Homo sapiens: one gene and its partners. The protein of the gene in region 2 purifies or fractionates together with the protein of the main gene of each other region. This does not show direct contact. Each region holds a gene or a part of one and is shown on either strand. Other genes may lie near its edges.

The links.
Region 1: the proteins of BMP15 (region 2) and HECTD1 purify together in Homo sapiens (affinity purification with mass spectrometry; 3 studies listed by BioGRID and IntAct, with this or other methods). This does not show direct contact.
Region 3: the proteins of BMP15 (region 2) and DCAF6 purify together in Homo sapiens (affinity purification with mass spectrometry; 3 studies listed by BioGRID and IntAct, with this or other methods). This does not show direct contact.

Annotation. Positions count from the first base shown.
Region 1 is NC_000014.9:31,103,178-31,106,931, reverse strand, and holds part of HECTD1 (E3 ubiquitin-protein ligase HECTD1), read left to right. Parts: coding exon 1-286; intron 287-1,263; coding exon 1,264-1,342; intron 1,343-1,455; coding exon 1,456-1,549; intron 1,550-3,754. UniProt on the Homo sapiens protein: E3 ubiquitin-protein ligase which accepts ubiquitin from an E2 ubiquitin-conjugating enzyme in the form of a thioester and then directly transfers the ubiquitin to targeted substrates.
Region 2 is NC_000023.11:50,909,082-50,912,835, reverse strand, and holds the start of BMP15 (bone morphogenetic protein 15 preproprotein), read right to left. Parts: upstream 2,102-3,754; 5' UTR 2,053-2,101; coding exon 1,725-2,052; intron 1-1,724. UniProt on the Homo sapiens protein: May be involved in follicular development. Oocyte-specific growth/differentiation factor that stimulates folliculogenesis and granulosa cell (GC) growth.
Region 3 is NC_000001.11:168,072,654-168,076,407, reverse strand, and holds the end of DCAF6 (DDB1- and CUL4-associated factor 6), read right to left. Parts: intron 1,038-3,754; coding exon 973-1,037; 3' UTR 572-972; downstream 1-571. UniProt on the Homo sapiens protein: Ligand-dependent coactivator of nuclear receptors. Enhance transcriptional activity of the nuclear receptors NR3C1 and AR. May function as a substrate receptor for CUL4-DDB1 E3 ubiquitin-protein ligase complex.

The DNA of each region.
Region 1 (3,754 bases), on a different chromosome or scaffold from region 2:
TCTCGGTAGGAAGCTTTGAAGAGGATTCAAAATCAGAATTTATTCTTGATCCCCCTAAACCAAAACCCCCAGCTTGGTTTAATGGAATTTTGACTTGGGAAGACTTTGAATTAGTAAACCCACACAGAGCCAGATTTTTAAAAGAAATTAAAGACCTTGCTATCAAGAGGCGCCAAATTTTAAGCAACAAAGGTCTTTCTGAAGATGAGAAGAACACAAAATTACAGGAACTAGTGCTGAAGAATCCATCAGGTTCTGGGCCTCCACTTAGCATAGAGGATTTAGGGTAAGCATTATATGTACATTCTTCAATCCAATGCATGAATAAGTTTTAAAGCTTTTGTTTCTTTGTCGTCACTGATTTGCAATATATGAGTAAATAGTCTGTCAAAAACAGTAATATGCTGTAGGAAATATTGATGATCGACTTGAACCTTTGATTTAATATTATAAAGACAACACTCAGAATACTAGAATATTAGTTTATTAATCATCAAACCTTTAGAAGATTACCTGACTTAGCCAATGTGAATTTATATGCCTGTGTAAAATGTCCAGAGCCAACAATATTTTGACAAATTCATCTGCTAATATATGATTCACTTTGCAAAGCTCAAAAATTGGTTGGTATGTCAGCTTTATCACCAAAGGCTGTAGCAGTTGAGATGCTGCAGAACTTTTGATAAAACTCTGTTACTTTATGTACAGGTAATTATCATATCTTCAGCTGTGATTTTAGGTTAACTGCAAGGCCTTTTTTTTTTAATGTTTGCTGATAATGTTGGTAAACTGTGTTTGATAAATGGTTATATATTCAAGGTTTTTTTTAATATATATTTTTGTACACAGCGTGATTGACTTCAGTAAAGCAACAGTTTCTTCCTAAAAGTCTTACAAACATGTTGCTGTCATAATTCATTGCAAAATTTTTAGTTCATTAATTTTGTGCCATAAGTTAGAAGTAAAATATAGAAAGGTGGTTTCATGCAATCTTTGCAAAGCCAGACAGATTTGATAACAGTTGGCCTAGTAGATTTTGTCCATAGAATATTGCATTTAAAAAGTCCTCAACTTACTTCTAAGCTGGTGTACTGATTTTGTTGGAGGAGGAGAGGGGTGGGATTTATGGTTTTGATAGCCATGTTATTTTATTTAATTTTTTCTCTTGTACCCACTGATGGCAGATGATAGTAATGTTATAAAAATTAAACACCATTAGTAGTAGCTGCATGTCAGTTAATTTAATCTTTTTTGTCCTCCCAGTTTAAATTTCCAGTTTTGCCCTTCCTCAAGAATATATGGTTTTACAGCTGTGGATCTCAAGCCAAGTGGTGAAGATGAGGTAAAAAGTTTGCTTTTAATATAGTTGTAAGTTCTGACATATCCTCTTAGCAAGGCCAGTTGTACTAGACACTCCTGAAATATTCCTAGATACTGACAAATTTTCTTTTGCAGATGATAACAATGGATAATGCAGAAGAATATGTGGATTTGATGTTTGACTTTTGTATGCATACGGGTATTCAGAAACAAATGGAAGCCTTTAGAGGTAATTTTAAAGGATTTTTAGCATAATTGCTCTCCTTTCACTTTGAGACAGTTGAAATTATGGTCAAGAATTGCTGGTGGTCGGCTGGGCACGGTGGCTCACACCTGTAATCCCAGCACTTTGGGAGGCTGAGGCGGGAGGATCACCTGAGGTTGGGAGTTCGAGACCAGCCTGACCAACATAGAGAAACCCTGTCTCTACTAAAAATGCAAAATTAGCTGGGCATGGTGGCGCATACCTGTAATCCCAGCTACTGGGGAGACTGAGGCAGGGGAATTGCTTGAACCCGGGAGGTGAGGTTGCGGTGAGCCGAGATCACACCATTGCACTCCAGCCTGGGCGATGAGCAAAACTCCGCTGCACAAAAAAAAAAAAAAAAAAAAGAATTGATGGTGGTCGGGTGTGCGGGTGTGGTGGTGGCTCACACTTGTAATCTCAGCACTTTGGGAGGCTGAAGCAGGAGGATCGCTTGAGCCCAGGAGTTCCAAGACCAGCCTGGGCAACATGGCAAGACCCCATCTCTACAAAACATTTTTTAAAAAATTAGCTAGATGTGGTGGCACGTGCCTGTGGTCCCAGCTACCTGCAAGGCTGAAGTGGGAGAATAGTTTGAGCCTGGGAGGCTGAGGCTGCAGTGAGCCATGTTTGTGCCACTGCACTCCAGCCTGGGCAACAGAGGGAGACCTTGCCTCAACAAAGAAAGAAAGAAAGTGGACATAGGTTGCATACATTCTAGATTACTTGATCAGGATGAATTAACATGAAAGAATCATGATGGGAACAAAGTATATTACAAGGTAAATTACTTTTGAAAATGAGAACACAGTTTTGCCTGACTTGTATGACAGAAAGAGCTGGTGAACTCCAGACTGAGTAGTAATAAGAATTTGCATACTGACCATAGCAACTGAATGTTCTCTCTCTGTTCACGTTTGTGATGTTAAGCAGGGATTTCTAATTTAAAATACAGTTTTAATTTCAAGCTGTCTTAATTTATGCTTGTTTATTCAAACATTTATGAATGTTGAATATTCATCTTCTGTCCATTTCATCGGTAATGGGTATTTTTTTATTGTTGCATAATATATGTACATGTTTATGGGGCATTTTGATACACAGAATGTGTAATGATAAAATCAGTCTTTAGGACATCCATCATCTTGGACATTTATCATTTCTATGTGTTGGGAACATTCAAATTATTCTCTTCTAGCTTCTTTGAAATATATATTATTGTTAACTATAGTCACCCTACTATGCTAGAAAACATTAGAACTTACTCCTTTTATTTAATTGTAAGTTTGTACCCATTAAACTACCTCTCTTCATCCACCCCCACATGCAACATTCCCAGCCTCTGATACCATTCTTTTCTTTACCTTTATGAGATCAACTTTGTTGTTTTTGTTTTTTTGAGACGGAGTTTTTGCTCTTGTTTCCCAGGCTGGAGTGTGATGGCACGAACTCGGCTCACTGCAACCTCCACCTCCTGGGTTCAGGCGATTTTCCTGCTTCAGCCTCCCGAGTAGCTGGGATTATAGGCATGCACCACCACACCCGGCTAATTTTGTATTTTTAATGGAGATGGGGTTTCCCCATGTTGGTCAGGCTGGTCTCGAACTCCCACCCTCAGGTGATCTGCCCACCTCGGCCTCCCAAAGTGCTGAGATTACAGGTGTGAGCCACCTTGTCCGGCCAAGATCAACTTTTTAAGTTCCCACATATGAGTGGGAACATGTGATACTTGTCTTTCTGTGCTTGGCTTTTTTCACTTAATATAATGACCTCCAGTTCCACCCATGTTCCTACAAATGAAAAGATTTCATTCTTTTTTTTTTTTGAGACGGAGTCTCAGGCTGGAGTCCCAGGCTGGAGTGCAGTGGTGCCATCTCGGCTCACTGCAAGCTCCGCCTCCTGGATTCACGCCATTCTCCTGCCTCAGCCTCCCGAGTAGCTGGGACTACAGGCAGCCGCCACCACGCCCGGCTAATTTTTTGTATATTTAGTAGAGACGGGGTTTCACTGTGTTAGCCAGGATGGTCTCAATCTCCTGACCTCATGATCTGCCTGCCTCGGCCTCCCAAAGTGCTGGGATTACAGGCGTGAGCCACCGTGCCCAGCCCATTCTTTTTTATGGTTGCATAGTATTCCATTGTGTACATATACCACATTTTCTTTACACATTCATCCCTTGATAGATACTTA
Region 2 (3,754 bases):
TCATCCTTTGATAGCACTTACCACAATTCACAATTTAACTGTGTGTGCTTATTTGTCTCCCCTACGAGAACATATGTTCCATGAAAGTAGGGGTTTTACCTATCTTGATCACATCTGTATGCCTAGTACTCAGTAGGTGCCAACATTTGGCACCTAATATTTGTTCAATGAATCTCTACCCACACCATTTTCTCTTTCCTAAATCAGAATGCACTTATCTGCCTCAATGCATGACCTCTTTGCTCCTTCTGCAAGGTCAGTTTCAAGTACTACCTCCTCCATGAGGCCTTCCAACAGTCTCTTCACTTCAAGAAATGAGCCATTTCTTCTCATAGGTCCTGGGAGCCCTACTGTTTGTCCTTTCCAAAGCACTTGGCATACTGTAACATTATTATGTAATTATCTATCCATTCCACTATACTGGGAACTTCTAGAGGTCGGAAAAGTATTTGCTTCTATATACCCAACCCAAACACACTGCCTGGCACTCAATTAAAATCCAGTGGGGAGTCAGAACAGCAAGATGATTAACACACAGGCTTTGGGCCTGAGAGCCTGGGTTTGATACCTGGCTCTAGCAATTACTGGTTGTATGACATGGGTAAGTGACTCTGATCCTCAGTTTCTTCACCTATCAAGTAGGCATGTTAATACTACCTAATCTGGTAGTTGTGAGGATTAAGATAATGTTTATAAAACATTTTGTGCAATGCCTGGCACACAGTAATCTCACAGTAAGGGTTAGGTACGAGAATATTTATTGTTTTGCTTGGGGAGGGGATTAAGTCCTGTCCCTTTTCATCTCAGACTAGTGAAGGCTACAGATTGATCTCACTAGGTTCCCAAGAATTCCTTGAAGTTGATGACTGTCTGCATTCTCTAGAGAGTCCTACACTTCAATAGCCCACTGTTGTCCTGCAACAATGTCTGATGCAAATGTTAAAAGCAAAATCAAGCATGATGGGGACAAAAAAAAGTTCCAAAATACACTTAGTCCCAGAATCCCAAAGTAGCAATATGGCCCAAGTAGAAAAACTATTGGGGGTACAAGGATATTGGAATACTGCATTTAAAGACTTAAGAAGTTACCGACAGACTTTAGAATCAGACAGACTTCAGCTGCAATCCCATCTCTGCGACCCACTATCTGTGTACCATTTGCAAGTTACTTAACCTCTCCGTGCCTTAGTTTTAAAATTAGGCTAATTGCATCAAGACAGTTAAGATAGTAGCTTTCATTAAGAAATACAGTAGCACATGTTCACAGAGCCAGGTATACAGACCCTCAGATGTAAGCTTATTTATGTCCTTTCTGAGGCCTTATAAGTTTCCCCAACTCAGCAAGCTGTACTCTAAGAGCAAAACGCCACTTAAATAGCCCTCCACAAGAATATAGCTGGATATGTCTCTACAGTTTTCAGAACTATCACAAGCAATAAAAGTTTCTGTGAAAGATAGGTGATGGCACATCACTCAGTTGTCCTGGGGCCTGGGAAAGATTTCTCAGTAGGCACCAAGGCAATCTGTTCTTAAGTTGATGCCCTAAAGGGAAGTAGGCTTGGCGCTGGCTTCTCCAAAGCTTGCCATCCTTTGAAAACCAAGCCTAAAGAAACAACCTGCCCACAAGGCAACAAAGCCTGACAGTAAACCCACCAATTCCCTTTTCTCTACACTCCTCTCCACTTCTCTCCCTTCCAGGGCAGTATGGGGGCATAACAACTCACCTCTGTGAGGCCTTGCCACATTGGTCAAGGGCTTCACCAGCCTCACCATGGTGGCCCCAATGGTGCGGTTCTCTCTAGGGTGCCCATGCGAGTCAGCTGAACGCCGGTACAACTCCAGCATGTACCGCAGTGAATGCCCTAGGAGCCGGGGCTTCCTTGGCTGTTCGCCAGGGGATTCTTCTAGCAGCTCCTCAATCAGGGGCAAAGTAGGGGCCTCAGCCAGAAGGGCAATAGAGGACTGCCCTCCTTCTGCCATTTGGGCCCTGTGTTCCATGAAAAGCACGAGTTCACAAAGAAAAAGAATTCTAAGAATACTGAGGAGGACCATCTTGAAAGGCTTAGTGTTCAACAACAGGCCCCAACACAAGCCCAAGGGACGTCACTCTGACCATTTCCTTTCATGCAGATAACTGCATCCTGGCTCCACAACCAAGGATGGGGCAAGAAAAAGAAAGGCAGGCAGGCCCTATGTTGCTTTCTCTAAGAGGATCTCCTGGACCAAAGTTGCCTCATAACTTGGCCTCTTTGCATCAAAAGAAACAGAAACAGAAGGTGGGACAAGGCAGCATGCCCCTCCCGCTCTCCCGGGCTGAGAACAAGATAGTACCTATTGAGAGGCTCAGGTAACTTAAAAGGAGAGGTCCATTTCAGGACCCACTTCCTTAACTTATCCACTAGAATGAAAAAAAGCAGCCTGATCCTACTTGCCCCTACAGCCTTAAAAGTAGTCCCTTAATCCATCCTTAAAGGGCCAGAGGCCTCCTGTTCCCATCCTACTTCCATGCCTCTAATGCAGCATTTCTCAAAATATTGTCTGCTAATAATCTGCAGTGAAACTATCTGGGGTGATTATTAAGAATGTAGACTCCTGGGTCTGAACCAGGATTCTCTGGGATGGCGTCCAGAAATCTGGCTCTTTACCAGTGCTCCAAGAAGTTCCTATGAAAACCTAAAATGTGGAAACTACTGAGTATGGCTGCTGGAGCTTGAAGAAGATGCCGTAACAGTGGTTCTCAATCTTGGCTGTAGATTGGAATCATCTGGGAAGCTTTAACTATTATGAATGCCTGGGTACCATTCTGATGTAATGGGCCTGGGTTGTAACTAGTGCATCAGGATTTTTTTAAGTTCACAAGTGATTTTAATGTGCAGCCACGTTTAAGGACTCTGACTTATAATTTTCTGGTTTACCTTGGAAGGTGTTGAGATCCTTATTGGGCTTCATTAGAGAAGCCTGAGGAAGGGGAAGAGTAATCTATGGGAGCTAACCTAGCCCAGATGGTTAATGTGAAGCAGCAGGGCTCGGCCAGTTTTAAGGCTGCCTCAGACCATTATTCTGCAGAAAGATAGTAGGTATAGTCCTGGCCGTACCGAAGTAGAAACATATGGGGATCTGGAGAGAAACTGGGGAAGCAGGTCAAGACCTGGCTCTAGGAGATGATGAGTCAGGCTTGATTTGTGGGAGGCCTTTACCTTACACCAGGAGTATCTATGGACAGACATTACTGTGGAACAGGCGTGGACTTGGTAATCAGGCAGATCTGTGTTTGAGTTGCAATTCTGTCCCTAGCTGTAATTTAACCTTTCCAAGGCAAATTTCTAGCTGTAATTTAACCCTTCCAAGACAAATTTCTTCACTTCCCTACACCTTAGTTTTCTCATCTGTAGAATGGAGATAACACGTTTTACCTCACAGGTTGTTGTGAGGAAGCAAGGAAATAATCTATGTTAATTGCACAAAGCCTAATTAGACACAAGACATAGGGTTACATGTTCAAATTTATTTGTGCTCTTCCTCTGTTTTTTTTTCTAACATGACCTTGGGCCCTGGCATGTAGTGTAAAACAAAAGGCATAGGTTTACGGGTCCTCTACATCTGGACTCAAATTTCAGCTCAAAAACTCATTAGCTGGGTTACTTTAAGCAACATTTCTCCCAGACTTAGTTTCTTCATCTATACTGCTGGCTCCTTCAGAGAGCTGTTGTGAGGGTTGTATTGTATAATATACAAGTAAGGGATATAAACAGAT
Region 3 (3,754 bases), on a different chromosome or scaffold from region 2:
TGAACAACACAGGTTTGAACTACATAGATCCACCTATATGTGGATTTCCTCTGCCATCCCTCAGACAGCAAGACCAACGCCTCCTTCTTCCTCGGCCTTCTCAACAGTGAAGACCTTTATGATGATCCATTTCCACCTAGTGAACAGTAAATATATTTTCTCTTCCTTATGATTTTCTTAATAACACTTTTTCTGTAGCTTACTTTATTGTAAGAGTATAGAATATAACACATAAAATATACAAAATATGTGTTAATTGACCATGCTATCAGTAAGGCTTGCGATCAACAGGCTGTTAATGGTCAAATTTTTGGGAAGTCAACAGTTACACATGAATCTTCAACTGTGAGGGGGGCTGGTGCCACTAACCCCTGGGTTGCTCAAGGGTCAGCTGTACCGTGGAAGGAGAAATGAAGGAAGTCCTTCTATGTGATTCTATCCCACACAAGCAAAAAAGGAAAAGGTTGTTAAATCTAGAAAATATAGAAAAATAGTCATCGTATGCTACAGGAGAGATTGGAAAACTGTGGGTCAAAGTAGCAAGGCATTAAATAAAAAGTCAAATTCAGGGTATCTTAAAACAACCAGTTTCTTTAATTAGAAAGCAACAAACATGCAAATGGCAAGTGTAGAAATTTATTTGAACCAACATTTTCACTATGATGAAAATTATTCTTCAACATTGATCCAAGCTCCCACATTTGAAGGTTAGGGAAAATATTGCACTTTGCATTTTCTAGCACTCCTCATACACGGCAAAAAGTTTTAAAAACATTCTGCTAGTTTTGTTTTATACAATCTCCCAAATTCATGCACACAATCATTCCAAACCAATGTTAGGTTATCCCAAAAAAAGGGAAAAACTCCAAAAACCATAACCTTAAAATTGCACTAAAGCTCTGTAAAGAAAAAAATATAATAAATGTCTTATACAAATTTCAGAACATTTAAGTGCTTGCCAAAAAGAGTTTATTATTCCTCATCCTCATTTTCATTCTCTTGACCAGAGCCTTCTGATCTGTCACCCTCCAACCGGTCTGGAAACACAGATAAGAGAATCGCAAAGAGAAATACTTTTAGTAATTACAATTATTAATATTTTTCAATGCCTTTTATTTAAAACGCATTAAAAATCAGTTCACCACTATGTGTGGATGTCTTTAGAGGCAAATAAAAGAGTAAAGAAAACACAGTATTATTAGCTTTGATTATGCATGTTATTCTAAAACATGTAAAAATGAAAAAAGAAACCCACTCCTAAAATCTTGATATATTATGTTCTACTGCAGTGGTTGTCAAACAGTGTTCTTTGGAGTCTAGGTTTCTAAGGAGGTACATCAGGTGCTGCAAAGGGGAGTGAGGAGGCAGCTGTGTGAGAGAAAATATGTGGACGATTGTTGAGGATTTGTGTAATTCTGTTTGTAAAAAGATTTTTTTAAATTAAATACTATGTTCCAGGCATTGTGATAAAACCTGAGAATACAATGGTGACCAAAACAGATGTAAATTTCTGGTCTCAAGGAGCTTATTTAGGTTAAATACTCAAGTGAATATAAACTTACAAACTGGTGAGTACAGTATGCTCGTTCAAGTTTTCAGGAATTACACTTGCTATTCCTCTGCTTGGGATACTTTTGCCCAATTCTTTAGCTATAAAGGTTTACTCATCTCAATACAACTATTATACCCTTGGTGAAACTTTTCCTGGACATTTCCAAACAGGCTATCTGCAGAATTATGAACTCCCTCCTCCACATTCTAGAATATCTTATATGAACTTCATAATGATGATCCTAATTACAGTAATAGTCGTTTGCATGTCTTCCTGCAGACCAGATTGAGAGTTCCTGGAGGGCAGGAGTTACTTCTTTTTATCTTTATATCCTCAGAGCCTAGTATAGGATGTTCAATGAAGGTTTACTGAATAAATGAATATAAGTTTTATGAAGGTAAGATACATTACATAAGGGTATTGTGAAGAAGGCAACAGCATAAAATCACTACCATCACTGAGATGGAACTAGGATGTTTCTGCCCCAGAAACATTTCCACATAGTAACATGGAAAATATTAAGGTTAAGCATAAGGAAAACAGTTCAGTCCCACTGTCAACAGCAAGAGAAGACTGAATCCTGAGATTTTATTTATTATCTACACAGGATTAAATGCTCCCACTGGATCCTAGGTCAACAGCACCAAGAACAGTACACTGAAGGGACTATATGTCCCTTTTAATTGTTTAATTGTCCAAGTGAATTAGATTAAATCTCCTCTATGCCAACTCTAATCCAATGTCAAACCAATGACATAATGTATGTGTAACCTTTATAACCTTAATTATACAAATAGGTATTGAATACAAATAAGTATTCAATTCCTTACTGATCTATAAAGGTCTATTCAAATCTTATTTTGTTCATTTATTTTATAAATATGTATTCAATACATATTTATAAAATAAATGAACAAAATAAGATTTGAATAGACCTTTATAGATCAGTAAGGAATTTAAACACAGTAGAAGAATTTCTGACCAATAAAAGGCTACCTAAGGGATATTAGTATAAAAAAAATTACATTGTTTTTATTGTGTGATACTTTCAAGAGAGAACAAAACATGAAGTTGCTATTCTACTTAAGTAGGGCTCAGGAATGGGAATCCTGAGTATGACTGAATATATTCAAGAAACCTATCCTGTCATGTTAGAGCATGATGAAGCAGTAACGGCCTATCTCAAAGTTGGCAGGCTTCTTACTCAAATTTCTTTTGGTTGTCACATTATAAAGAAGATGGGATAATAGAGAGTTAAGAAAAAAATGTCACAGCCTTTAAATCAGGGAGTTTGCAGTAGAGGTTAGACTTTTACACTCAGAGGCACACAATAAAGAGACAAATGAGGGCCAAGAGTCTTACGATAGGTCACAGAATAAGTGACAGTGGCTTCTGAAATGAGGAAAGCAGAATAGTTGTTCTCTCCTCAAATTCAATTCATTTAACTGATGCATAGTCACCTCTTCCAGAATGTAAGCCCAACTTCTCAGAATTAATTAAATCTTCTGTTCATGAAATGCTACTGAAGTAGTAAGGCTGCAAAGCAGTTAACACTTATACAAATCTCTGGTTGGCAATTATAGACAAGGAGGTCTGAAGAACAGTGTGTTCTCTTAAATAAAAACTGGAAATAAGAATCACTTCTATGTATACTGTTTTTCTTTTTCTTCTTTTTTTTTTGAGACCGAGTCTCGCTCTATCGCCCAGGCTGGAGTGCAGTGGCGCGATCTTGGCTCACTGCAACCTCCGCCTCCCGGGTTCAAGCGATTCTCCTGTCTCGCCCTCCCGAGTAGCTGGGACTACAGGAGCGTGCCACCACACCCGGCTGATTTTTTTGTTTTTAGTAGAGATGGGGTTTCACCATGTTAGCCAGGATGTCTATGTATACTGTTTTTCAGAAGTAGCAATGTCAAATTGCTTTTGTAAATAAGGTTTACATTTGTAGAAAGGTTCCTTTTATTCTGTTAGAATATTTCTTCAGGAAACTGGGGAAGATAATGATATGAAGAGACACTGAGTTTGCTGCAGAGGGAGGGAAGGTAGATAAGAAAAAAATTTCCCAATGGAAGCCTGTGTTTCACAAAAAACACTGTTGTTTTATTTTCCAGGCTACCCTTTACAAAGAATTTATTTACTTTCTTTAAAAGAAATAATACAAATTCATTGTTAGCTAGAGATTTGATACTAGATGTGTACTTATTT